6 separate regions of the Homo sapiens genome follow, and regions 1, 2, 3, 5 and 6 are each linked to region 4. The links come from fine-mapping of genetic effects on gene expression. A gene starts in region 4. Each other region holds a variant in brackets. All regions are shown on one strand. Distances are from middle to middle. Region 1 has its middle 42 kb from the start of ECRG4. Region 2 has its middle 67 kb from the start of NCK2. Region 3 overlaps NCK2 (NCK adaptor protein 2). Region 4 holds the start of NCK2 (NCK adaptor protein 2). Region 5 overlaps NCK2 (NCK adaptor protein 2). Region 6 overlaps NCK2 (NCK adaptor protein 2).

What was found. PIP is the estimated chance that this variant, and not a neighbour inherited with it, causes the effect.
Region 1: its variant is fine-mapped to the expression of NCK2 in tibial artery (GTEx, PIP 0.95).
Region 2: its variant is fine-mapped to the expression of NCK2 in whole blood (INTERVAL, PIP above 0.99).
Region 3: its variant is fine-mapped to the expression of NCK2 in whole blood (INTERVAL, PIP above 0.99).
Region 5: its variant is fine-mapped to the expression of NCK2 in whole blood (TOPMed, PIP above 0.99).
Region 6: its variant is fine-mapped to the expression of NCK2 in whole blood (TOPMed, PIP 0.96).

What each region holds. Positions count from the first base shown.
Region 1 is chr2:106,021,510-106,025,598 of GRCh38, reverse strand. No RefSeq gene overlaps it. Among named protein-coding and RNA genes, the nearest start is that of ECRG4, 42 kb to the left of the region's middle. The variant A/G (reference allele first, on the strand shown) is at 2,322.
Region 2 is chr2:105,676,311-105,680,399 of GRCh38, reverse strand. No RefSeq gene overlaps it. Among named protein-coding and RNA genes, the nearest start is that of NCK2, 67 kb to the left of the region's middle. The variant C/T (reference allele first, on the strand shown) is at 2,120.
Region 3 is chr2:105,778,436-105,782,524 of GRCh38, reverse strand. The region is part of intron 1 of NCK2 (NCK adaptor protein 2); the gene reads right to left. Among named protein-coding and RNA genes, the nearest start is that of NCK2, 36 kb to the right of the region's middle. The variant C/T (reference allele first, on the strand shown) is at 1,926.
Region 4 is chr2:105,742,749-105,746,837 of GRCh38, reverse strand. NCK2 (NCK adaptor protein 2) reads right to left here and starts at 1,926. Exons shown (of 5, transcript NM_003581.5): 1 at 1,700-1,926. RefSeq lists enhancers at 616-665, 766-835 and silencers at 1,206-1,595, 1,706-1,765, 1,956-2,275.
Region 5 is chr2:105,767,868-105,771,956 of GRCh38, reverse strand. The region is part of intron 1 of NCK2 (NCK adaptor protein 2); the gene reads right to left. Among named protein-coding and RNA genes, the nearest start is that of NCK2, 25 kb to the right of the region's middle. RefSeq lists enhancers at 1,719-2,221, 2,222-2,724. The variant C/T (reference allele first, on the strand shown) is at 1,774.
Region 6 is chr2:105,834,315-105,838,403 of GRCh38, reverse strand. All of the region lies in intron 2 of NCK2 (NCK adaptor protein 2), which reads right to left. Among named protein-coding and RNA genes, the nearest start is that of NCK2, 91 kb to the right of the region's middle. RefSeq lists an enhancer at 3,187-3,236. The variant G/A (reference allele first, on the strand shown) is at 2,437.

The DNA.
Region 1 (4,089 bases), 280 kb before region 4:
ATGTGCCATCGTCCTGCCAGATCACCCACCTTCACCAGGGCTCTAAAGAGCATTTGGTTGGTTCCAAAAATAAAAACACTCCCAAAGACAAATATTTGTTAGTACTGGGAATTGCCCCCAAAATATGAGGCAGAGTCTAAACTCAATGTCCCGAAAGGAGTGGACTGGAATAAATGCTTAGGCTCTCAGAGCACCTAACTGAAGGGTACTACGCTCACTTATCAGGAAAAAAAAAAAAGAAAAGTCGACCATATTATTACTTTCTAGTCACATTTTTATTCAGGCCCACACATGAGATCTGCTCCAGGGCAGAATTTTGCAAGGAAAAAGAGGTGACACCTCTGTGAACAAGAAAATGCTTTTCCCTGGTGCCTACGGGGACATATGCTCAATATTTCTAATTTCTGAAATTCAAAGCAGTGAATAGTGGTTTATCACAAAGTTAAAGGCAGGATTTAAAATCTGGTATAGATCTCATTTGTAGCCAGAGGAGGTTGAGAAAGAAAGAAAACAAGAAAGGAAGAGAGAGAGAAGCAGAGAGAAAGAAAGACAGAGAAAGAGGCAGAGAGGGATAGCAAATGGGGAAAGAGAGAGACAGAGAGGAGAAAGAGATGAAGACATAGAAGGGGAGAGAGAGAAGGAGAAAGACAGAGACAGAGGAGAGACAGAGAGAGACAGACAGAGACAGAGAGGGAGAGAGACAGAGAACATAATTGGAAAAGTAAGAAAGATCTCTCCCATCACACTGTCTGTACTAACATCCCAAACTCAGCCCCCATCCCAGAAAAAGACAGAGAATAAGGAAAGGGAAGGATACATCTAGAAAGGGAAGGACGCATCTAGAAAGGGAAGGATACATCTAGAAATAGAGTGTCAGGTCAGAAGAGCTTAGTGAAGGACCCTTATGAGCTAAATTAGGGTTCCATGAGCCAACCTTCACCATAGGTCCCTCTTGACTCCACACCCTCAGCCAAGCCACCTGTTAGATTCTCCTGGGGCCCCTGATTTCACAGGCCCCAAGGCCCTGCCTGAGGGACAGAACAGCCCAGGGTGGGGAATGAGGCAATCGAAACCAGGGAACTCCTTGAGCTGCTAGTGTAGGCGGAGGGCAGGAGGGAGAACACATCTCCTCACACACTTCTTACGTCTACCTTTTACCTTGTAGAAAAATGTCAAAAGTCTTATTTATTGTAGCCAGGAATGCAAGGCAGGTTTCAAATTTTGGAAAGGAAAGAGCAACCTCATGTTCATTTAAAATCATAATTTAAGTCATAATTCTCCCCCCTCCCCGCTTCTACTCCCCAACTTTGGGCTAGCTGAAGCTGGTTTTAGGGCATTCCGTTCCAAGTTTGCATTCACAGATTTGCAACTTGAGTGAGCTGAGCTGGGTAAAAGAATAGCCCAGCTTCGGATGAGGACACCTGTGGGTGCTGCGTTGTCCTCATTCCTCAAGGGGAAGAGAGTGCAACAAGGATGCTTGCAGCTGCTCAGATGCTGGCTCAGGCACAAAGCATCTTCCAGCCCTGACAATGGTGCCATTTTTCTTCCAAGACCAATTGCTAAGTCCTGCAGGATTTCAGGCTTCATCAGAGATATTAAGAGTGAGCAAAAACCTTCCTGACACCAGTTCCCAGGTGTAGGGAAAACACTCAAACTTCCTCTGGGAGGTTTCCTGGCTCCTCTGATGTGGTTGCAAGAAACAAACCAATAGTAGTTAGCCAATGTGATAGCAGAAATCCACGGCAGGCAGAATAATGGCCCCAAAGATGTCCACATCCTAATCTCTAGAACCTGTGAATATATTAGGTTACATGCCAAAGGGCTATCAAAGTTGCAGATGGAATTAAGACAGCTAATCAGCTGACTGTCTTGGGCAGGTGGGCCCAATGTGGTTGCAAGGGTCTTTATAAGTGGAAAAGGGAGGCAGAAGAGAGGGAGCCAGCGAAATGCAGCATGAAGAGGACTCAGCCTGACTTTGCTGGCTCTGAAGGTGGAGGAAGGGGCCACAGCCAAGGAATGCAGGTGGCCTCTAGAAGCTGGAAAAGGCGAGGAAACGGATCATCACCTGGAAGGAAGATAGCACTGCCAACACCGTGATTCTAGCCTAGCCGTGATGGCAGGAAGATTAAATCATAAACCAGTGAAATTTGGGGGGTGAGATAGGCTCAGAGTGTAAGAGGTAAAGGACAGGAATGACTATCACTTTTTATGTAGTTTTGACTTTGTTTTTTCTTTTGAGACAAGTTCTTGCTCTGTCTCCCAGGCTGGAGTGCAGTGGTACACTCACAGCTCACTGCAGCCTCAGTCTCCTGGGCTCAAGC[A/G]ATCCATTCGTCACACCTCAGCCTCCTGAGTAGCTGGGACTACAGGTATGCACCACCATGCCAGGCTAATTTTTGTATTTTTTGTAGAGATGGGGTTGTGCCATGTTGCCAGGGCTGGTCTCAAACCCCTGAGCTCAAGCAATCTTCCTGCCATGGCCTCCTGAAATGCTGAGATTACAGGCGTGAGCCACTGTGCCTGGCCAGTTTTGACTTTTGAATTATGTGTTTTACATATTCAAAAATAAAATTAAATCAAAGAGTTTTTTAGAAGCACTCTAAACTTGGATAAACACAACACAATGATATACTATCTACCAAACTGGTTACATAAGTACATAGAAAAAAAGAATTAAGTAACTTAAAAGCTGAGCTCCAAGCATACACATTTAGTTGGACTTATTCTAAGGGTAAAAAGACCTGCAAAGAAATCTTGATCTTAGGAGTTTTGTTGTCAGTACTGGTATCGATACTGTGATTCTGGAATATTTTGAGTTATGTCCTAGAATAAAGCAATGAGTAAGGAAGAAGAGAGATACAAATATGGTGTGGAGGATATTGAGGAAGAACTCGGCAATGTATTTGTGTTGAATTGTCTTTGAATTGAAGATATCAGTATAAATCCATGATTCCAAAGATACATTCCTTAGTTCTCTCCACTGAAAGGGAGACACACTGAGGCCCTCATAGCAATGAGCATATGTAGGCCCCAGATCTTGGTTTCTTTCACCCGGATCTAAGTATCACTCTCTATCAAAAGCAACCAGGATTCCTTGGTAAATAGCTAATTTGGGTGTTGAGCAGGAAAAATATAAGATGAGCCTGGAAGTACTCAAAGACCATAGTGACCGCTAAAATGTGGCCCAGCTAGGAACCAAACCTAGGTCTTCAAATGTCAAACCCAGCAATTATTTCTACTTCACTGCCCTGTATTTCCCACCATGAAATCTGCTCCCTACTTTACACAATCTATATTTTGGTATCACTTTTAAATATTAGAATTTTGTTACAGCCATCGAAGTGGTATCTTTCTCATTTTATTTTCTCTCCTTTAATAGAAATAAAGCTTTTGAAAAGCCAATCACCAGCCTACCCGAGCATCCAGGATTAGGGTCTGTACTTCTTTTATGTTCTTGAGCAGCGTTCCTCATCCTTTTTGGCACCAGAGACCAGTTTCATGGAAGATAATTTTTCCACGGACAGGGATTAGGGGGAGTATAGGGGTGGGGAAGGGTGGTTTTGGGATGAAACTGTTCCACTTCAGATCATCAGGTACAGATTCTCATAAGGAGCATGCAACCTAAATCCCTCATATGTACAGTTCACAATAGGGTTCATGCTCCTTCGAGAACTAATGCCAGGCTGATCTGACAGGAGGCATGGCTCAGGCAGTAATGCTCACTCACTCACCTGCCACTCACCTCTTGCTGTGCAGCCCGGTTCCTAACAGGCCACAGATTGGTACCAGTCTGTAGCCTGGGGGTTGGGGACCCCTGTTCTTGAGCTCCAAAGCATGCCTGCTAAAACTCTGCTCTGAACATCCAGACCCAGCCTAGGGTAAAGAGACAACTCAGAGAGATGGATCCTTCTGCAGCGTGGCCTCCTGGTTGAGGGTGGTTATTTTTTCTCTGCATTAGTTACCCTCGTTCTTTATCTGGAGAAGGAGCAAATGGAAAAAAGGGGAAAGAGAATGAGACTTTTCTTTTAATAAGTTGAATATTGACCCTGGCCAACAAAGATTTTGGCAGCACAGATTGAAATGCATTCCTGA
Region 2 (4,089 bases), 66 kb after region 4:
CTTACTGCTTCATCCTACTTCGAGCTCAAGAAAGCAGGCGTTTTATCTCTTTTATTTACAGCTTTCTCCCCAGCCTCTAGAGCAGTACCTGGCACAGTGCTACCCATTAGATATGTGTCAAGGGAATGAAGGGACTTTGAGGCCACAGGTCAAAAGCATTCCGCTGATGGCGTAGCATTTGCAAAGTCCTGTCAAAATATCCCGCTTGACTTCAGCTAGGTGTTGGGGAATTCTGAGGACCGGAGTGGTGAAGAGAGAAGTCACTTTCTAGAGGCTGGAGGAGGCAGCAGCAATAAGTAGTGAGAAATCCCCAGGCAGAGACTGAACCTCAAGGGATGGAAGTGAGTCTGCAAGGTCTTAGGTGTTAGGTGGAAATCCTGGTTTTCATTCCATTTAGGGTAATGACAGTTTCTTTCCAAGAGTTCAGGATATTTTAAAAATCATCCTGTGCTAAGAAGAACATAACAAAGTAGCCAGTGGAAGAACCGTAACAAAGTAGCAGGTGGAAAAATAACACGACTGATGGCAGTTATGGTTTTGAGGACAGGTCACATTTAGCAAGTAAAAGATGCCAGATAACTGCAGAACCAATGAGGCCTTTTGTTTGTGTAAATCGCTTTCCTCTTCCTGAGTTTCCCCAGAAGCATACCTTGAGACGAAGATTCAAAGTTAACCATTTGTTTTGGAAGGGGATCCCTGGAAACATGGGCAGGAGACAGAGAAGGGAATGCAAAAGCCAACAAAAGGTGCATTATGAAGCAAGTGATCCCGTGGGCAGTGCGGCTCAGCCTTCAGGGAAAGTACAATAGACAGTGTTGGCCATGCCTCAGTGGTGCCCCAGCAGAGGGGCAGGGAGCTGGGGATCTATCTACCCTGTCCCATTAGGGACATTAACTGAGGGTTCCTCCTCATGGGATCGACTCTCATGAGCTCCTGGCCTGCCTTTAGCATGGCACAATGGTCTCTGGCTGCCAGGGAAGCCCTTGGGAAAAATGCTCAGATGTTTGTCTCCAGGATGCAGGGAATGGTGGGTGCTCAGGGGCATGGGTGGGTAACTCTCACTGCCAGTCTGCTCCTGGAAACATGGGACATATGGTGCCCTGCAACCCAAGTGTATGTTTATCTAATTACATGGAAGAAAAGCAGGATTCCTAATCGGTGTCATAGTTTCTTGCATATCACTTTTGGGGTTTCAAGTATTAAAGTATCGTAAAGATGTTCTAGGATAGAAGGTAGACAGGAGTGAAGAGAAAACAGACAAAATTGGGAAGAACAAAGGAGTAAATGTAAGTGAAATGAAATTGCTCAGTTCAATTGATTGGGTTAGTGCTTTCCAAGATAATGAAATTCACAACAGATAAGTACACTTTGCAGTATGGTGCCCCACCCCACGGCACTCACACAGCCACATTATAATAGTCATCTGAAGACTCACCTACATACAGTGCACATGTGACAAAAGCAGCAGACATATATCACTCACGTATGTGGACAAATACACCCATCAGCAACTTCCCTGGTTTTCTACATCATGGTCATCTCCAGCTTCACCTTTCTACCTTCTGCTTCCTCCCTCAAACCCCTATAAAGGAAAATCAGAATGCCTGCATGTCTCCAGATATTAAGGGTCACCTGTGATTTAACAAGAGGTTACAATAAACTGTCCAGGGAATATAAAAACAAAAATCACAGCACCAATAAGTACTGCAAAAGAGAGACATACGTTGTGCTGAGAGTATATATTAGTAAGAATGAGCCCAACCAGGAAGGAAGGTTAGCAAGACTTCACCAAGGAAGTGATGACCGAGCTAACACGGGAAGGAAGAGTAGGAGGTACCTGGCTGAAGTGGGAGGGAAGGGCCTCCGGGGAGAAGGAGCTTTCCAGACAAATGCCATGTGACGATATTTGCCTGACTCGTATTATATAACTCACTGCATATGTGAGAAAGAGAAGAGGCATATATTGCACACATATATATAGACACACACACCCACCCACCAGTCTTAGTTAGGAGATGATGTTGCAGAATGAGAGTAGGGAATTTAGAAAGCTTTCCTGCTAAATATCTTGCAAATTCTTAGAAAGGAAAATCGACTGCACGTCATGATGAGTTGGTGA[C/T]GGGGAAGTTCAGCAGGCACAACAGTGCCCTGCCCATCTCCTCAGCCCTTACCCTTGCAGCCAGAGCCTTGGATGGTTCAACGCCAGCACCTGCATCTCTGGTCCTTTCCTGGACTCTCGAGATTCAGCAATCCAGAGAAGCAGCAAATTAATACCCCACCCAGCCCCAGCAACCTTCAACCACTGACCTGAGTTGATGGATAGACACCCCAGCTCCCTCTCCACCCTATGAGAGACACACGTTCCAGAAAGTCAGAGCTCCCCAGATTCACTGAACACCAGTTGCCTTCAATGGTAAAATGCTTAATAGCATTCTGTCCTGGCGGGGACTGCTACAGCAAAAATCCCATGAACTAGGGGGCTTGGGCAACAGACATTTATTTTTCACGGTTGTGGAGGCCCAGAAGTCCACTATCAAGGTGCTGGTGGATTTGGTTCCTGGTGAGAGCTCACTTTCTTCCTGGCTCATAGATGGTCCTTCTTGTTCTGCCCTCATGGAGGAGAGAGAAGCAAGCTCTCATGTGTCACATCTGTTCTTACAAGGACACTAACCCATCATGAGGGCTCTACCTTTATGACTTAGTCACCTCCCAAAGACCCCACCTCCTAATACTATCACATTGAGATTAGGGCATCCACAAACGAATTTAGGGAGGACATAAACATTCAATCCATAGCACATACCTTTTATTGGTTTCTTCTTTTCCCTGTCCCACATCCCTTCTTCTCTCCTCTCCTTGGAGATAAACTACTTGCCCTAGACTCCTGGTTGAGGGTCTGCTCTTGGGACACTGCAAAAAGACAGAGTAGCCAGGTTGACTTCAGGTTTCCATTCACTCGGCTCAAGGATCCTAGAAAAGAGTTTAAATGCAAAACGCCAAAGTTCAATACTTTTCTCTTCAACAGTAATGATAAAGCAAGACTTTATAATAATGAATAGCATAAGGCCCATTGCCTACAAATGAATCAAATTTGCAGGAGAGTTAGGAAGCAAGTTTTTCTAAAGGAGTGCTTAGGAGGTATTTGAATTCTCTGTTCAAAGAGAAGTTGTATGTGGCCGGGCAAGGTGGCTTATGTCCGTAATCCCAACACTTTGGGAGGACGAGGTGGGAGGCTTGCTTGAGGCCAGGAATTCAAGACCAGCCTGGGCGACACAGCAAGGCAGGTGTCTGAGACCAGCCTGGGCGACACAGCAAGGCAGGTGTCTGAGACCAGCCTGGGCAACATAGCAAGACTGCATTCCCACAAAAAGTAAAAAACATTAGCCAGGCATGGTGCCATGTGCCTGTAGTCCCAGCACCTGAGGAGGCTGAGGCAGGAGGATCACTTGAGCCCAGGAGCTCGAGGCTGCAGTGATCTATGATCATGCCACTGTACTCCACTGCGGGCAACAGAGTGAAAACCTGTCAAAAAAGAAAGAAAGAAAGAAAGACGAAAGAAAGAAAGAAAAGAAAGAAAGAAAGAAAGAAAGAAAGAAAGAAAAGAAAGAAAGAAAGAGGAAGAAAGAAAGAAAGAGAGGGAGAGAGAGGGAGGGAGGGAGAAGGTGTACAGCAGAAGTGGCCTTGGACCTGAGAGTGTATGGTTGCAAAGCTATGAGGCAAAGGTGCTGAGGGATCCTCCATCTGTGGCAGCCATGTGCTGGGCTAACAGCTAGAGAGAAACACTTTTGTTCAGGAAATGGTTCAGGTGTTAGGATAGAATTGAGAAGCTCAAGCTTTGTTTTCCAATTTCTTTTGTTATTATTATTTTTTGAGAGGCACGGTCTCTCAATGTTGTCCAGGCTGGTCTCAAACTTCAAACTCCTGGGCTCAAGTGGTCCTCCTGAGTAGCTGGGACTTGGTTTCCCAATTTTTGAAGTATGAAGTTCTTGGATTTTGTTTGCAGGACTTCAAGGACCTCTCCTGATCTAGTGACCAAAATCCTGGAAACAGCATCTAGAGAATATGTTGCCTGGTTTTCACTCCAGTACC
Region 3 (4,089 bases), 36 kb before region 4:
ATAGCCAGCATTCCTCAAGTGAGATTTTGTGTAGAATTTAAAGTAACTTTAATACTTAAGAAAAGAGCGTTCATTATATAGACTGTTTCTTCTCAAGTCCTCAAATGGCCATCAACCCAACTCTGACACCTGCTGTGGAGAGAGTGGAACTAGTTTTAGGGAGATTTTTGGTGGCAGAGAGAGAAGGCAGATCACTAATCCCCATGGGCTGGTGGAAGCCATCAGCAGGATGTGCCTGATAATCCATCCATCTACACCAGAAGGAAGGGCCACCCTGAGTCCCTGGGCCCGGCCACCCCGCCTGCCTACAGCCAGACCAGGAGGGTTGTCCCCTTACTCCTATAAAGAGAGGGGAAAGAGATGATCGGTGATAGGCTCCCACTCTCGCGGAAGCCCAAAAGCAACTTCCCGCAGTCATAGTAAGAACAGAGTAAGGAAGGAATGGACCTCAAACCTGGGAAACCAGGTCTTTGTCTAGGAGCTCCTCCCTCAGCTTGAGGGACCTGATGGGCCGCAGGTTTTCAGGTAATTTGGACTCACTTGGACATTCTCAACTTCATAGTCAAGAAACTGACAGCTGTATGTACCTATTTCAGTTAAAAGCATTTACGGCAAGAAATAAAGAGGGAAGAATACATATGCACGTATACCAGTTCATTCAGCAAATGCCTAATGAGCATCACTACGTGGCCAGAGTCCTTATCACAGACTCATTCCAACTGGAGAAACAGACATGTCTACAAATTTTCGTACTGCGGAGAGGCGACAGCTCTGTCACAGACAACATAAATTGCAGGATTATCACTTGCCAAGCCACAGGCTCTGTACTTTTCATGCATTGCTCTTTATTATAAACCTAACAACTACCTTACAAGACTGCTATTTTCTCCATTTTTCAGATAATAAAACTGATGCACAAAGACCTCTGCCAGCCCAAAGTCACACTATGGCAATGGCAGGTCATGATTCATGCCAGCAAACCAGATCTTAACTGCTAGGCTGTACTGCCTTCCAGGAATGAGTGCAGAAATATTACGAAACAGACGTACATGGACTAGAAGGCCAAGGAGGGTCACTAGTTCTGGCTGGGGGAATCCTGAAGGCTTCAAAAGGGAGATTGCATTTAGTCAAGTCTTGCAGTGTGGGAAGGGATGAGTGGTGGAGGTGGAAGCGGAGATGGGAGAAGGCTGCCCCTGTGTCAGCAACAGGACCTGCAAAGGCACAGAGGTGTAAAAAGTGCACGGCTCCCTTGGGAATACCTAGAGTAATCATGTTCATAAAATTCACAAGGGCTGAATGGTAGAAGGTGGAGCAAAGATCAGATTTTAAAGGTGCTTTGACAACACAAAGGCACCTCTAGGAAATGGGAAGCTAATAGTTTATAAGAAGAGAAGTAAAACAATTAGATCTGTATCTTTGAAAGCCAACCCCGGAATAGGTGGGTGGGAGGGAGAAAAATCTGAAAGCAAGAAGACAGGAAGACCACGACCAGGTGAGAGACAAAATCTAGATTCGGGCAATGAGAAAAGAGAGGGTCACTTAGTCAAGGCTGGGTGACTGTGGTAGTCCATTTGGCTGGCTGTAACAAAATACCACAGAATGGTGGCTTATAAACAAAGGAAGTTATTTCCCACAGTTGTGGAAGCTGGAAGTCCAAGATCAAAGTACCAGGAAATTCAGTGTCTGGTAAGGGCCTCCTTCCTGGTTCCTACACGGCGGCTTCTTGCTGTGTCCTCACATGCTGAAGGGGTGAGGGGGCCCTCTGGGGTGTCTTCCGTAAGGAAATTAATCCCATTTGCAAGCGCTCCCCTCTTACGACCTAATCACCTCCCAAAGGCCCCACCTCCAAATACCATCACCTTGGGGGGTAGGATCTCAACATATGAGGGACACATTCAGACCACATCAGTGACCAGGGGCTCTGA[C/T]TGGTGACTGATGTTTCAGCATAATTACAGACAGCACCCCTCCCACTCTCAATAGTGCCCAGGTATAGATGACAAAAATGTGGTTATCACTTTATTCAACATCTATATGGATGTGACACAGGACATGAGCGAGAAGCAGGATTTGAGGATGAACATTAGAATTTTAACCCAGATACCAAACGAAAATGAGAGAGCCAGAAAGGGAGAGAGTATGTGTGTGTGTCCTTTAGATGAATGTGTGTGTGTGTGTGTGTGTGTGTGTGTGTGTGTGTGTATATATCTCTCTCCCATATTATGGAAATAAATGTGACAGACATCTAAATATTTATGACTATCAGGTCCCAACTTAATCTAGATGCTGAGAAGCAATGGTTTTATTAATAGAAATTTCACTTTAAAAACCTTCCAAATATTCTACAATAAATATTTATTATTCTTGATTAATCTTGCAACCAGAAATTTTAAAACAAAGGAAATATGCTTCATTTCTAGTACGTCCAAAATATGCTCAGTTAAAATAATGCCATTGAATAAGGTAAAGGCAAAACTGGAAAAACGGAAATTAGAGTAGTTTATGAAAAGAGTAGAATTGAATTAAATAACCCAAGGAAGCACACACAGGAGGTCTTGAGAATTCGCTGAGCTGTGAAGTATGTGGATATGTACACGCTATCCTGAATGAGAGGGTGAAGGCGGTCTCGTAGGCTATGGCATTCAGGCTGTTTTCCCCATATCAGTTTCTCCTTCCTATAACTAAGGGAATTAATCCATCATACAGAACGTGAGGACTCTACAAAGCTACATTTCTGCTAGGGAATTACTATGTATATGTATGTGAGTGTGCGTTTTAAATCATGGTCTGACCAAGAGGCTCAATTCAAAAGCTGATTAGTGGGAAAAAAAAAAATCAAAGCTCTTTCCTCCTCTCCTCCACCTGCATACGTCTCCCGTGGGCGGAGAGCAAGCTCTCCTTTCCATCTGCCCACAAGGCCAAGTGTAAAGCACAAAGAATGGGCAGTCCTTTTCAGGTCTGCAGCCAGGAGGCTGCACCCAGCTCCAGGAAGCCAAGTTCAGCTGGACGCAGCCACCCACCACTTGGTAGGTGGCAGAGATGCAGCCATATTCAGACAGACTGAAGCTCTATATATAACAGTCACATGGCAATCAACTTAAAGTATCCCCTTTAGTTAATTAAAAAAGATTAAAAGCCTCAAGTCTAGGTGTTTTCTGTTTTCTTCAGGAGTGATTTTAATAAACACATTTTATGACGGATTCTTTTTTTTTTTTTTTTTTGAGACGGAGTCTCGCCCTGTTGCCCAGGCTGGAGTGCAGTGGCACAATCTCGGCTCACTGCAACCTCTGTCTCCCAGTTTCTAGCGATTCTCATGCCTCAGCCTCCAGAGTAGCTAGGACTACAGGCATGTGCCACCATGCCCAGTTAATTTTTGTATTTTTAGTAGAGACAGGGTTTCACCATGTTGGCCAGGCTGGCCAAAAACTCATGACCTCAAGTGATCCACCTGCCTCAGCCTCCCAAAGTGCTGGGACTACAGGTGTGAGCCACTGTGCCCAGCCTTATGATGGATTATTAATGAAAATTATTCTCAATTATTTGTTTTAACATTTAAATATTGAATTTCCAAGTTTAAAAAAGATATTCTTAAAGCATATTCTTAAAGCTCTTGAAAAAAAAAATAACCATTATCTCAATTAGCCTGGTATAGTGGTGTGTGCCTATAGTCCTAGCTACTTGGGAAGCTGAGGCAGGAGGATCACTGGAACCCAGAAGTTTGAGGCTGCAGCGAGCTATGATCACACCACTGCACTCCAGCCTGGGCAAGAGAGTGAGATCCTGTCTCTACAAAAATAATAAGAAATGAAAGAAGAAAAAAATAACCATTATCTCAATTGATACACATAACCAGTGCAGTAACAAGGGCATGATTTCCCAGCCTAAGGAGGAATGTGCAGAAACTCCAGTTAATAGGGGCACCTTTGGTTCACGCAGCCACCAGCATCCTGCATTACTCTGTGAGAGTTAACTCTGCCGGCAAATCCCCATGGAGAGGCTGCCCAGAACCAAGGGCTTCTTCCCTCTGCCATCACCGCCCTTCCCTGGTCCCCATGCACACAGTGTTAAGGGCAGGTGTGTTCTTACACACCA
Region 4 (4,089 bases):
GAAGACCACTAAGATTCCGCCACCTTCTCCAATCAAAACTACATCTAACCAACCTCCAGGGCAGAATATACTGAGGTAGGATTTTCCCTCGTGTTCACTTCTTCACAAGCAGGTTAACACTTGCTTCTCAGGAAACCCCTGTTCCAAACGTCAAAAAACCTCCATGTCTAGCCCAATCTCCAGGTGAAGTCAATTTCTTCTCCACGTGTCCGATGACTGCCATTCTCTTTACGTAAAACTCGCAAGGCTTGAATCCTGTTACTAATTCACCTGCTTATCTATGAAGCTTGCAAAGTGAATTGAGGGAGTGTTCACACGCACAGTTCCGTTTTGGTAAGTTAAAGCGGCCCAGGTTAATTTCATTTTCAGTCACTTTTGAGACTTGATAACTACATCTAAAACAGAGGCATGAAAAACACCCTGAATCACTTTCATTCCTACACAAAATCCCTTCCGAGAAGCGGGGACTGCGCCTGGGCCAGGAAGGGACTCCCCTACCTGTAGGTCCCAGCAAGCCACGCCCACCGGCCTCTCAGGGTTGTTTCTTTCTGGGTCGAGGGACGGAGCTGGCCCTTGCGATATTTTAGGCCCCCTCCTGCCCACACTGGGGCCTGCTCATCCCATTATGCAGATGCAAACTTGGCAGAAGCAGCCTTAAACCTGTTGGCAAAATAAACAAAGCCAAATAAAGAGGAATCTGCCAACCTGAATTGTGTGAAGTGGCCAAGGCCGACTCCACGCACGCTCGGCTTTGTCCCTGAAGCTGTTACAATACTAGTTTAAGTCAGGTGCCTGGGGTCCACCAGCCAATGACCCCTAGCATCCACCGCAGACCTTCACAGAGATCCCCATTGTCTACAAATTAAAGCGTTTTGCAAATTAAACCCCTCCACACAATGCCAAGCTAACTGTGCTCATAAGGCAGTTACCCTCCATGCCTTAAAACTCACATATCAAATTTTTCCAAAAGCACTCGGTGATTAAATCGCCCTGAAAAAAACCGAGAGAGCCGAGCGATTGTGAGAAACTTTGGTTCATTCAGGTGGCTGTTAGAGTCCTGTAAATCTGGGGCAGGGCGCAGAGCCTGAAGCCGGGCACAAAAGCTCCCTTCGCCGAAGCGAGGACCTCCTTTATGCAATGTGACAGCAGCTTTGTGCGCGAACATAAATAGTTGTAATAAACACGGTTAAGTTCTCCCGGCCGATCGCGGCCTCCCCCGTCCCTGCGCCGGGGCCCTGCGATCCGCGGCTATTCTTCCCCGGCACACGCGCCCTGGCGACCCTGGCCACCGCACGGTCCCACGCTAGCCCCGAGCTCCGTGCCGGCCGCCCGCCTGCAGGCCAGGCGCAGCCTGCGCACCCGGGGGTCTCCAGTCCCCGGGCCCCGCAGCCGGGCCCCCTGCCCTGATCCTCGCCCGCGCCCTTGGCTGGCGTCCCCGCCCCTGGGCCGGCCCCCGATGGTGGGGGTTAGGGATGGGAAGGCGGGCAGGAAGGTGCAGAGCCGGGAGGTGCCCGGCAGTCCGCGGTCGGGGGCGCCCAGGCCGCGGCAGGGCCGAGAGCACCGGAGGGGCGCGGAGGGGACCCGCTCTCCTGGCCCCTTCCCGGGCGCACCCCGGCCCGCGAGCCCCGCCGCGCTCCCAACTCCGCCCAACGGCCCCAAGTTTGTGGCCCCCGCCCCACGCCCGCCTAGCCGCGCTTACCTCGCCGTGGGCCGCCCGCGGAGCCGGAGGGCAGCGGCGCGGGTCCCGGGGCGGTGGCCGCGCTGCGCCCGCCCAGGCGCCGCTCTTTGTCTGCGCCGCTCCCTCCTCCCGCCGCCGGGCGGACGCTGCCGGCCCGGGCGGACCCTGCCGGCCCGGGCGCCGCGAGCCTCCCGGCCGCCAAGCCCTCCCCTCCGCCCGCCGCCCGCTCGGCCGCGCGGCTCCGGCCTGACGATCCCCGCGGCAGCGGCGGCGGCGGCGGCGGCGGCGGCGGCGACCCTCCCCCGGCGCGCAGCGCCCGCCTCCTCCGCGCTCTTCCTCCTCCTCCCGCGCTCCTCCCCGGCCGCGCCGTGACGCCGCCCAGGGGCCGGCCCAGGCCCGGGCGCGCGGGGCGGGGACCCGAGACCCACCTGGGGCGCCCCCCGTCGTCGCCAGGCTCCGCGCCCGGGTCCCGGTACGGGCGCCGGGATAGCGCGGGGCTGCGGGACGCTCCGCTCTGGAGGCGCAGCACGGGCCGGGCGCCGGGGGCAGGAAAGGGTCCCCACGCCCGAAATTGCGTGCGGGCGGTGGGGGGCAGGGTAGGTGGGTGGGGAGGAGAGTGAAAACACAGACGGCAACTTCCAGCCTGGGATGACTGCCGGGTGGGCTTTGCGTCCTCTTTTTTGTTTGTTCGTTGTTCTTATCACGAAGCTCTAGTTGCTGGGCAGCCGCCCCCCTCCCGGAAGCATTCCCACGGCACTCAGCTAAGCAGGCCTGTTGTCCATCAGAAAAGTGACTTAAATAAAAATGTCACTTCCTCCCTGTAATTGCTTGTGGGCATTTTTATTTATTTGCTTTGCATCTATTTACTTTCCCAACCAGACACATTTTTAGTCCATCATCCCTGTCCGAGGCACTTCCTAAAAGAAGAAGAAACTCGACCTCTGTTGCCTCCCAGGCATCCAGGCCAGCCCCAGCCTGTGGAATCCTGGTTGCACACCCGTGGGGGCAGAACCCGAAGAGGAGCTGCCCGAATGTGCCCCTAGAAGGAGTGTCGCTAATGATGGGACCGTTCAGCTCACCCAGCCTCGAGTTGTGGCTAGCCTATAAACAAACTTGGAAGATGAAAACCCAAGAGCAAGGGGAAAGACACAAGTTTCCCTTTCACAGACACATGCATCCGGATGTCTTTTCTCCTCCCCATATGGTTTCCCAAAGGAAATCCTAATATTCAAATGATTCTGATTTCCTGGCAGGATAGCCTGCATCCATGTTAATGAGATTCTTTCTTAGGCTCCTGGTCTCTGCTTACTATTAAGGCAATAATAATTTACCCAAGGTTACAAGGCTGTATTATTTGATTCACTCATCTCCTGCTTCCTTCCAGAAGGGAAGTACCCAAGGATAGGTAACTAGAGTCAGCGTAGCTTTGAAGTCAGACAGGTGAGTGTTTGACTGTTGACTTCCTGAACTGTGTAACGTTGCACAGGTGGTCCTCAGCCTTTCTAAAATCTGTCATATGGGGAGATAATATTTACTTACCTCCTATGTGAAGTACCCTGGCAGTAGGTAGCCCTCAATAGCTCAGTAAGTGGAAGGAAGCACAGTACACTGAGCAGGAATCAGGTACAAGCTCAGGGAATCAGAACAGCCTCATTTTTCCTTGTTTTGACCTTGTGAAAGAAGCTACTTCAGTTCATCCTTTTGTGCAAGTTTTGTGTTACTAATATCTAGCTTTACAATAAGAAAAGAAGAATTCTAGTCATCAGTCTGCCCAATTTTAGATTAATTTACTCAAAATAAGTATAGCAATATTGACCCAGTTTGTAGCTTGTTTGCTTTGTAAACTTTCACTGAATCGTGGTTCTTGCATGCCTCTTCTTTCTCTGATTCTTTAGAAGTCACCGATGTCATTCTCTATCTAAATCCAGTGGCCCTTTATCAATCTTTATCCTGTGGAGTTTTCTGAAATATGTGGCATTTCTGCTATTTCCTGAAACACCATCATCTTTTCATTCATCAAACACAGCCAGTTCTGATTCTCTTACCTTTCTGACCTGCCCATCTGCCTCCTCTAGAGAGGTTGTTGTCTTCCCACCCTGTAAAAGTGATATCCCCAAGGCAGATGGTGGCCCTTTGTTTTTATTCTGATACGCACCTTTTTTTTTTAAAGAGAGAGTTGATTGTTTTTTGTACACTCCCTGTCTAAACCTTCATTGATTAACCCCCAGACCTGTAGCCTTAGAGAGCTCCCCTGCTAATCTGCAGAGCTCCCCAGCTAATCTGCACCCCCTAAACATGGCGCAGCATCTCTTCTAGGTCACCATGTTCAAAATGAAACTCATCTGCTCCCCAGACCAGCTCCTCCTCCCATGGTTTCAGGCCTGGCCAAGAGTCTACCAGGCACCTCAGCT
Region 5 (4,089 bases), 25 kb before region 4:
AGTGGAAAATGAGGCCCTGGAACAGCCCTGGGAGGGAGGAAGTCAGTCTGAGGAAGCTTCTGGGAACAGCTGCGGAGAAAAATATAGATCTGAGTGATGGGCAGGCCTCACAAAGGAATGGCAGCTTTCACACCAGAGGGTTTTTACTTCAGACAGAAGAAAACAATGGTTAGAAAAAGCTGCCAGTAGCGGTCAACCCAGGTACATGCTTTTTCTAGAAAGCTTTATGAACTCAAAGCAAATCTCAGTAGCCTCTATTTGAGAAACATCAGCTTTAAAAAAGCTGCCTTCTATTGATAAGAAAAGAACATTACTTTCTACCTAAGTGACATGATTAGAAACAATGGGAAACTTCTTGAAATATTTGTCTAAATTAGGTCTTTCTGTTTTTGAGAGGGAGTTCCACTCTTGTCGCCCAGGCTGGAGTACAGTGGCCCAATCTCGGCTTACTGCAACATTCACCTCTCGGGTCAAGTGATTCTCCTGACTCAGCCTCCCAAGTAGCTGGGATTACAGGCGCCCTCACCACACCCAGCTAATTTTTATATTTTTAATAGAAACGGGGATTCACTATGTTGGTCAGGCTGGTCTTGAACTCCTGACCTCAGGTGATCCACCTGCCTCAGCCTCCCAAAGTGCTGGGATTACACACGTGAGCCACCCCGCCAGCCCTCATGTTTTTTTACTAGAAAGTCAGAATGGAAAATATAAAAGGGGATAGAAATAGTGATATTGGGCGGGGCGCGGTGGCTCACGCCTGTAATCCCAGCACTTTGGGAGGCCAAGGCAGGCGGATCACGAGGTCAGGAGATCGAGAGCATCCTGGCTAACAGAGTGAAACCCCGTCTCTACTAAAAATACAAAAAAGTAGCTGGGCATGGTGGCGGGCGCCTGTAGTCCCAGCTACTCGGGAGGCTGAGGCAGGAGAATGGCGTGAACCCGGGAGGCAGAGCTTGCAGTGAGCTGAGATCGCACCACTGCACTCCAGCCTGGGCGACAGAGCGAGACTCCGTCTCAAAACAAAAACAAAAGCAAAAACAAACAAACAAACAAAAAGAAATCATGATATTAACATCAGAATTGCCAAACACTGAAGATTGAAATGATAAGCAAACTGAAATGCCAAACTGTTTAACCCAAAATGACTTCCTGGATCTGAAATACTTTAAAGGGGTAGAAATACATTTTCAGAAGTATTATTTTTCTTGACCTGTTAAAGATCTTTAAGTTTAAAATAATGAAAAATAATTCAGATTACTAAATATCGATATCCATATCCTAGGCAATATAGCACTCTGTGATTCACACAAGAATCAAATCCGAATCACTGACCTGATCATTTTACAGATCAGTGGTCTGTTTCTAGAGCATATCTACACACTCTAAAAATGACAGATATTCTATAGCCTTCTACTTCTAAGAAAATGATTTTAAATATGATCAGTTATGTAAACACACATTCGCATACACACACACAACCTTACAGTAAGTTTCAGGCCTTCTTAGTTGTAAGAAAAGCACTGTACTTTTTAATCAGGACACATAAATCTACCTCTCAAAAGATCAAAGCCAGATGCAAACATCATCCTTTAAAAAGATCTCAGCATTAGATAGAGCCACTAAGTTTACCTCTAACTGGAGTCACACTGTAACAGAAATTTCAATCATGCTCTTAAAGTTCAAAGAATTCTGTAGAAAAGAATTCTGTCCAGAATATTAACATTTTTTTGAAGTCTGATTCTTAGAAATTCCTTTAGCAACCACACCCCATGT[C/T]CACAGCACCATCCTTTTTCTTGTTGCAATATACCTTTTTCTTTTTTTTTTTTTTTTTTACTTATTAGTGCTTTATGTTACATGAAATTAAGTGCAAAAATACTTAAATAATGCTGTGTGCCAGGCACCACTCTCAATGGTTTGACTCACTGTACTCTGCACAATCACCCATTTTCCAGTGAAGGAAATGGAGGCACCAAGGGTAAAGTAGCCAGCACAAGTCAGACCTCATGGCGGGGCCAAGGCATTCTGGCTCCAAAATCCCGAATCAAAAAGCAGAAGGTCAAAAAATTAAAAACAAAGAAACATCACACACGGAAGGAGGAGAGGCCAAAGATTACTCCGAGGGATTAAAATCTGAGTTTTTCTCCGGTTTACCTTCTACAACTCCTTTTACTGACCACGCCTGACACACTGACACATGCATTCCCTGCCACAGTGGCTCCTGTGGCCGCCTGGCTGTACTGCACAGTGCAACTCCTCAGGGCGGAAGCTGCGTGGACCCCTGGCCCTTCTTGGCCAATGACTCTAATTACCCCATGGTTCCCTCCAGAGGGCAGTGGGCAGTGCAGTAGGTCACCCACACGTCCCATTTCTTAGAAAACCTGCAGCCATGGATGCCTAACTTCTACTGTGGAGTTATTCTTCTGTACGTTATTATAAGTAGAGTCACAATTTTTGTGCTACATTTAAACATTTTGTATCTCTAAGCTTCCTTAGAAATGTTACTATATTTTTCCTACATTTGCTTCCTGAGAAGCAAGAACGGGGGAGTTACCAGCACAGTGAGAGTCATGATTCGTCAGACCCAGGGTAGAAAAGAATGTAAAATAGGCACGCATCAGCTGTTTTACTGAGAGGAGGGCTTTAAATAGGGCGCAGCCAGCTGGGGATGGGGAGGGGAGGGGTGGGGCGGGGCAGCAGGCTGACAGGGCTGCCCAGGTGGATAATAAAAAAGATCTCTGGTCTTGGTCCCTGGTTTCTGGCATAGAGCTCCTAAAGCCCTTGGTATTTACTGAGCAACAAGAGTGCCCTTAGTGATTCATAGAGAGCCCCAGTGCACCACACCTGAGCTTATGCTAATGAGGTGACCAGTGGGGTTGGGGGGTGCCCCTAGATAGCCTGGAGGGGAGCTGGTCATTGCCAGAAAGACAAAACGTGTGATTAGAGAGTGGGAACTTTCTGCACCCCCTACACCCCAACCTCTGGGAGGGGTGGGGGGCCAGGAGACTGGGCTGCAAAAACTCTTGAAAAATGGGATGTGGGGAGCCTCCACGTCATGAACTCATTGGGATGGTGCACTAGGAGGTGTCTCCCCCAGGGGGCATGGGGACTCCCACCCCTCGTCCCATGTGTCACTTCCTTTGGGCTGTTCCTAAGTTGCATCCTTTAAAACAGGGGTGTCCAATCTTTTGGCTTCCCTGGGCCACACACACTGTAAGAATCATCTTGGGCCATACATAAAATACACTAACATTAACTGCAGCTGATGAGAAAAAGAAAATTTCAAAAAAAACTCATCATGTTTTAAGAAAGTTTAAGTATTTGTGTTGGGCCGTATTCAAAGCCATCCTGGACCGCGGGTTGGACAACCTAGCTTTATAGGAACCACTAACAATAAGCAAAGTGCCTTTCTGAGTTCTGTGAGTTGTCCTGGCAAATTATGGAACCTGAAGTGAGGTCATGGGAACCCCAATTTACAGCCAGTTGATCAGAAGTACAGGTGGCTTAGGACATGCAACTGGTGACGGAAATGGGGATGGTCTTGTGGGACTTAGCCCTCAAAACTTGTGAGGCCGGCACGAACCCTGAAAAGCTAGTGTCAGAACTGAACCAAATTAGGGGACACCTAGGTGGTGTCAGAGAATCAGAGACCTGTTTGATAACACAGCCACCGGCCACACGCGGCCACTGAGCACTCAAGGGGTGGTGAGTCCAGCTATGTCTTGCTGTGAGGGCAAACACACACTGGACTCTACAGACAGGCAAAGAAAGCAAATGAATGGCATTAGCAATTATTTGAGTATATGTTGAAATATTTTGGTTATGTTGGACTACAGAAGACTTAAAATTTGTAGCCTTTTTCATGTGGTTACTGGGAGAGGTGAAGTTACACATCTAGCACACACTGGCAGCTTATGTTCTATTTCTGCTGGACAGTGCTGCTTGAGATGTCTTCATTTCTGAAAACACAAGTACTGATGTCCATTTTTTTGTCTCAAATTTTTCACATGTAGAAAGACAGCAACTACTTAAGGATGAGAGCCGGGGATGTGAGTAATAGAGAGGGAAGGAATTAGTATTTATTAAGTGCAT
Region 6 (4,089 bases), 92 kb before region 4:
CCACAGATAATGAAAGATAAAGTTTAGGAAAGCTCATTAAATGACTGAGAAGGCAATTGTCTAAGACTAGTTACCTGGCCAAAAAAAAAAAAACATTTTAATAAAATTCCAGCATTTAAAAATTTGCATTTATCTTTATCAACTCCAAAATTTAATTTTAAAATATGCTGCTGAACATTGAAACAAAACAAAATGCATATAGCCCTTTCGGCACAGCTGTGAGAACACAAGATTTTCTTGTGACTTGAAAATGCTAAGGTTTATAAATAGTGGTTATCTATTGCTGGTACAAAAAAAAAAAGGACTGTTCTAGTTAAACAGAAAGTCTGGCTTAACAGTGAATTCTCATGTAGGAATTATTGATTTTCATAGATCAAAATAGGATTAAATATACTTGTAAAGAAACTGTTGGAAACAGCACATATAATCGTACAGGACTGGTGTTGAATATATAAGAACTCCTACAATTCAACAACAAAAAGACCAATAACTCAATTAGGCAGCAGGCAAAATACACAGTCATTGCAAGGACAGGTAGCACAAATGGTGAATAAACATAAAAATAACTCAAGTTCATTCATAATCTGAGACCACAATACGATCCCATTTTATAGTAGATGGGTAAAAATGAAAAAGGTTGATAATGTGTTAGGAAGGTTGAAAATCAATGGGAATACACATCATGTGCTGGACAAAGTAAAACAGAATCACTACTTTGGAACCAATGTGGGCTTATCTTGTAATGCAGAATACTGACATACGTACAAGGCAGCAGCTCCACTTCTACTTATATGCAGTACAGAAACTCTTGCACTGTGCCTCAGGGACATGCACAGTGCTCAGGGCAGTACTGCTTATGACAGTTAAAGAAGAGAAAATAACCCTGATGGAGGGAAGATACATAGGTGGTATAGTCACATGATTCACTATCATACCAAGAAAGTGAAAACCAAGAAATCACCACTCCCCACACAATCACACAGATGACTTGGAGAAACAATATGCAATTGGGGAGGCGTTGGGGAAGTCAAAGGACTGCATACTACATAGATCCATTTTCATAAAGCCCTAAAACAAGCAAAATTAAACAATGTAGTTTAGACTTACATATGTGGTAAAACTAACGTTAAAAATCAAGGAGCTTGACGTCATTAAGATGGCCTACTAGAGACACACCCAGCAATCACCTCATCCACAAAGAACTAAAACAATAGATAACCACACAGCAAGTAAAATGTCCAAGGGAGAACACTGGAATTCAGCAAAGAAGCAACAAGACCCTCCGAGGGACAGAAGCTCAGGATGGCAGCACAGAGGAAAGAAAAGCAGCCAGCCAGGACTGACTCAGAGCCAAGGGGGACTCCCTGTTATAGGAAAAAGTAAGCTAAAGGTCCACAGCAGACCACATTCACACCACAGATGCCTACAATCTTAGCCAGAGCCATCATAGGCCTTGAGCCCCATAAAGGGAGGTACCTGGCATCCATGCAGTTGTTTTACTCTAGAAAGACCATTCATGCTGGGTAGCCCCTACTCCCTGAGTCCCAGGCTGCTGCAGCAAGGCACCATTTGGAGACTGGATTCACACTAGAGTGCATCCTCCTAGGGGCCCCAGCATCTCCACATCCCTGGGGTCCTGTCAACATCTCACCGTATCCACCCAAAGAGCTGCAGTGTTTTGATACCAGCTGGACCCAGCAGTGCAGCTCTAATCCCAACACCTGAACCCAAGCAGCATCCTACACCCTGTAGAACAGGTGGTCCAGCACAGAAGGAAGGCTTCCCCTAGAACAAAGGGAGCCAATGCACAGTCTCCCCAGAGCCTGAAAGCTGACTGCATGGGGCCTGCTACTACCTCCACCAACAACTTTGCTCCCTCCAGCAGTAAGCTGCCACATACGCAGCCTGGAGGCCTGAAAACCAGCCCACCCACTGTCCTTGTTTTCAGTAAAGCCACACCACGCCTCCAAAACCAACTTCAGCTTAAGCCACTGAGGCACTTGCAGACACCACTGACAGTGATTACAGTCCAAGAAATCATACGAAGACTACACTTTTACGCTCACCCAGAATCAAACCCAAAGCATCCTACCCAAATGATACTATAGCATACATCTACAAAAAACTCTGTTCCCTATGAAAGATACTCCATGAAACTGAAAAAAAGAAACTATTTCGCTAACAGTGCAGATATCAACGTACAGATACAAGAAACACGAAAAAGCAAGGAAACAATAAAACCTCCAAAGAAACACAGTAATTCTCTAATAACAGAACAAAGAAAAGGAAATCCATAAAATGCCTAAAAAAGAATCTAAAATAATGATCTTAAGGAAACTCAGTGAGATACATGGGAACATGGAAAATTCAACGAAATCAGAAAAACAATTCATGAGAATTCATGGAGAAATTCAACAGAGATATTTATCACAAAAA[G/A]TCTTGGAACTGAATAATTAAATGAATTAAATAAAAAAATTGAGAGCCTCAAAAAGAGACTAGATCAAGCAGAAGAAAGAATTTCTGAACATAGAGACAGGTCTTTTGAAATATCCTAGTCAAACCAGAATTCAGAAAAAAAGAATAAAAAAGAATGAAGAAAGCCTACCTGACATGTGGGATCCTATTAAGCAAACATATATTCATATTTTGGGATTTCTAAATGGAGGAGAGATGGAGAAAAGCATAGAAACCCTCTTTAATAAAGTAATAGCAGGAAACTTCCCTTTGTGGGAGAAAGAATCCAGATCCAGGAAACTCTAAGATCCTTAAATATATTCAACCTAAGAAAGTCCTCTCCAAGGCACATTGCAGTTCAACTGTCAAAAGTAAGACAAAGTGAGAAGTCTGAAAACAGCAGGAGAAAAACATCAAGTAAAATAAAACAGAATCCTCATCAAAATAACAGCAGATTTCTCAGCAGAAACCTTACAGGCCAGGAGAGTTCACTATGATATATTCAAAATGCTGACCAAAAAAAAAATATATATATATATACACGTATATATATATATATATGTGTATATATATGTATATATATATAAAACCAGCCAAGAATACTATACCCAGCAAAGCTATCCTTCAAAAAGGAAGAAGAAATAAAAGTCTTTCCCAGACAAGCAAAAATTGGAGGAATTCATCACCAGTAGACTGGCCCTATGAGGAATGCTTAAGGAAACCCTACATTTGGAAGCAAAAGAATGATATCTGCCATCATGGAAACACACAAAAGTATAAAACTCACTGGTAGTGCGAAAACATAAATGAGGAAGTGAAAGGAATCAAATATTACCACTGAAGAAAACCAGCAAACCACAAAGAAAAACAATGAGAGGAAGAAAGAAACAAAGGATATACAAAGCAACCAGAAAATACTTAACATAGTTACAAGAGTTTGCCTTCATCTCTCAATAACAACCTTGAATGTAGGGCTAGGCATAGTGGATCATGCTTGTAATCCCAGTACTTTTGGAGGCTGGGATGGGAGGATTGCTTGAGCCCAGGAGTTCAAGACCAGCCTGGGCAATACAATGAGACCCCATCTCTACAAAAATAAAAATAAAATTTAGCCAGACATGGTAGCACACATCTACCTGTAGGCCCAGCTACCCGGGAGGCTGAAGCAGGGGGGCAGTCACTTAAACCCAACAGTTCAAGGCTACAGGGAGCTATGATCATGCCACTGCACTCTAGCTTCAGTAAGAGAACGAGACCTTGTCTCTAAAAAAATAAAAAAATTAAAATTGAAAAAAAAACCCTTTAATGTAAATGAATTAAATTTCCCAATTAAAAGATATAGACTGGACAGATGGATTAAAAAACACCACCTAACTATATGCTGCTTACAAAAAACATTACCTATAAAGACACACAGAGACTGGAAGGGAAAGGATGAAAAAAAAATCTTCCACAGAAATGAAAACCAAAAGTAAGCAAGAGTAGCTATACTTATACCAGACAAAATATAATTTAGATAAAATAGACTTTAAGTCAAAAAACATAAAGTGGCAAAGAAAGTCATTACGTAATGATAAAGGAGTGAATTCAAAAAGACATAACAATTGTAAATATATATGTACCCAAGAACAGGGC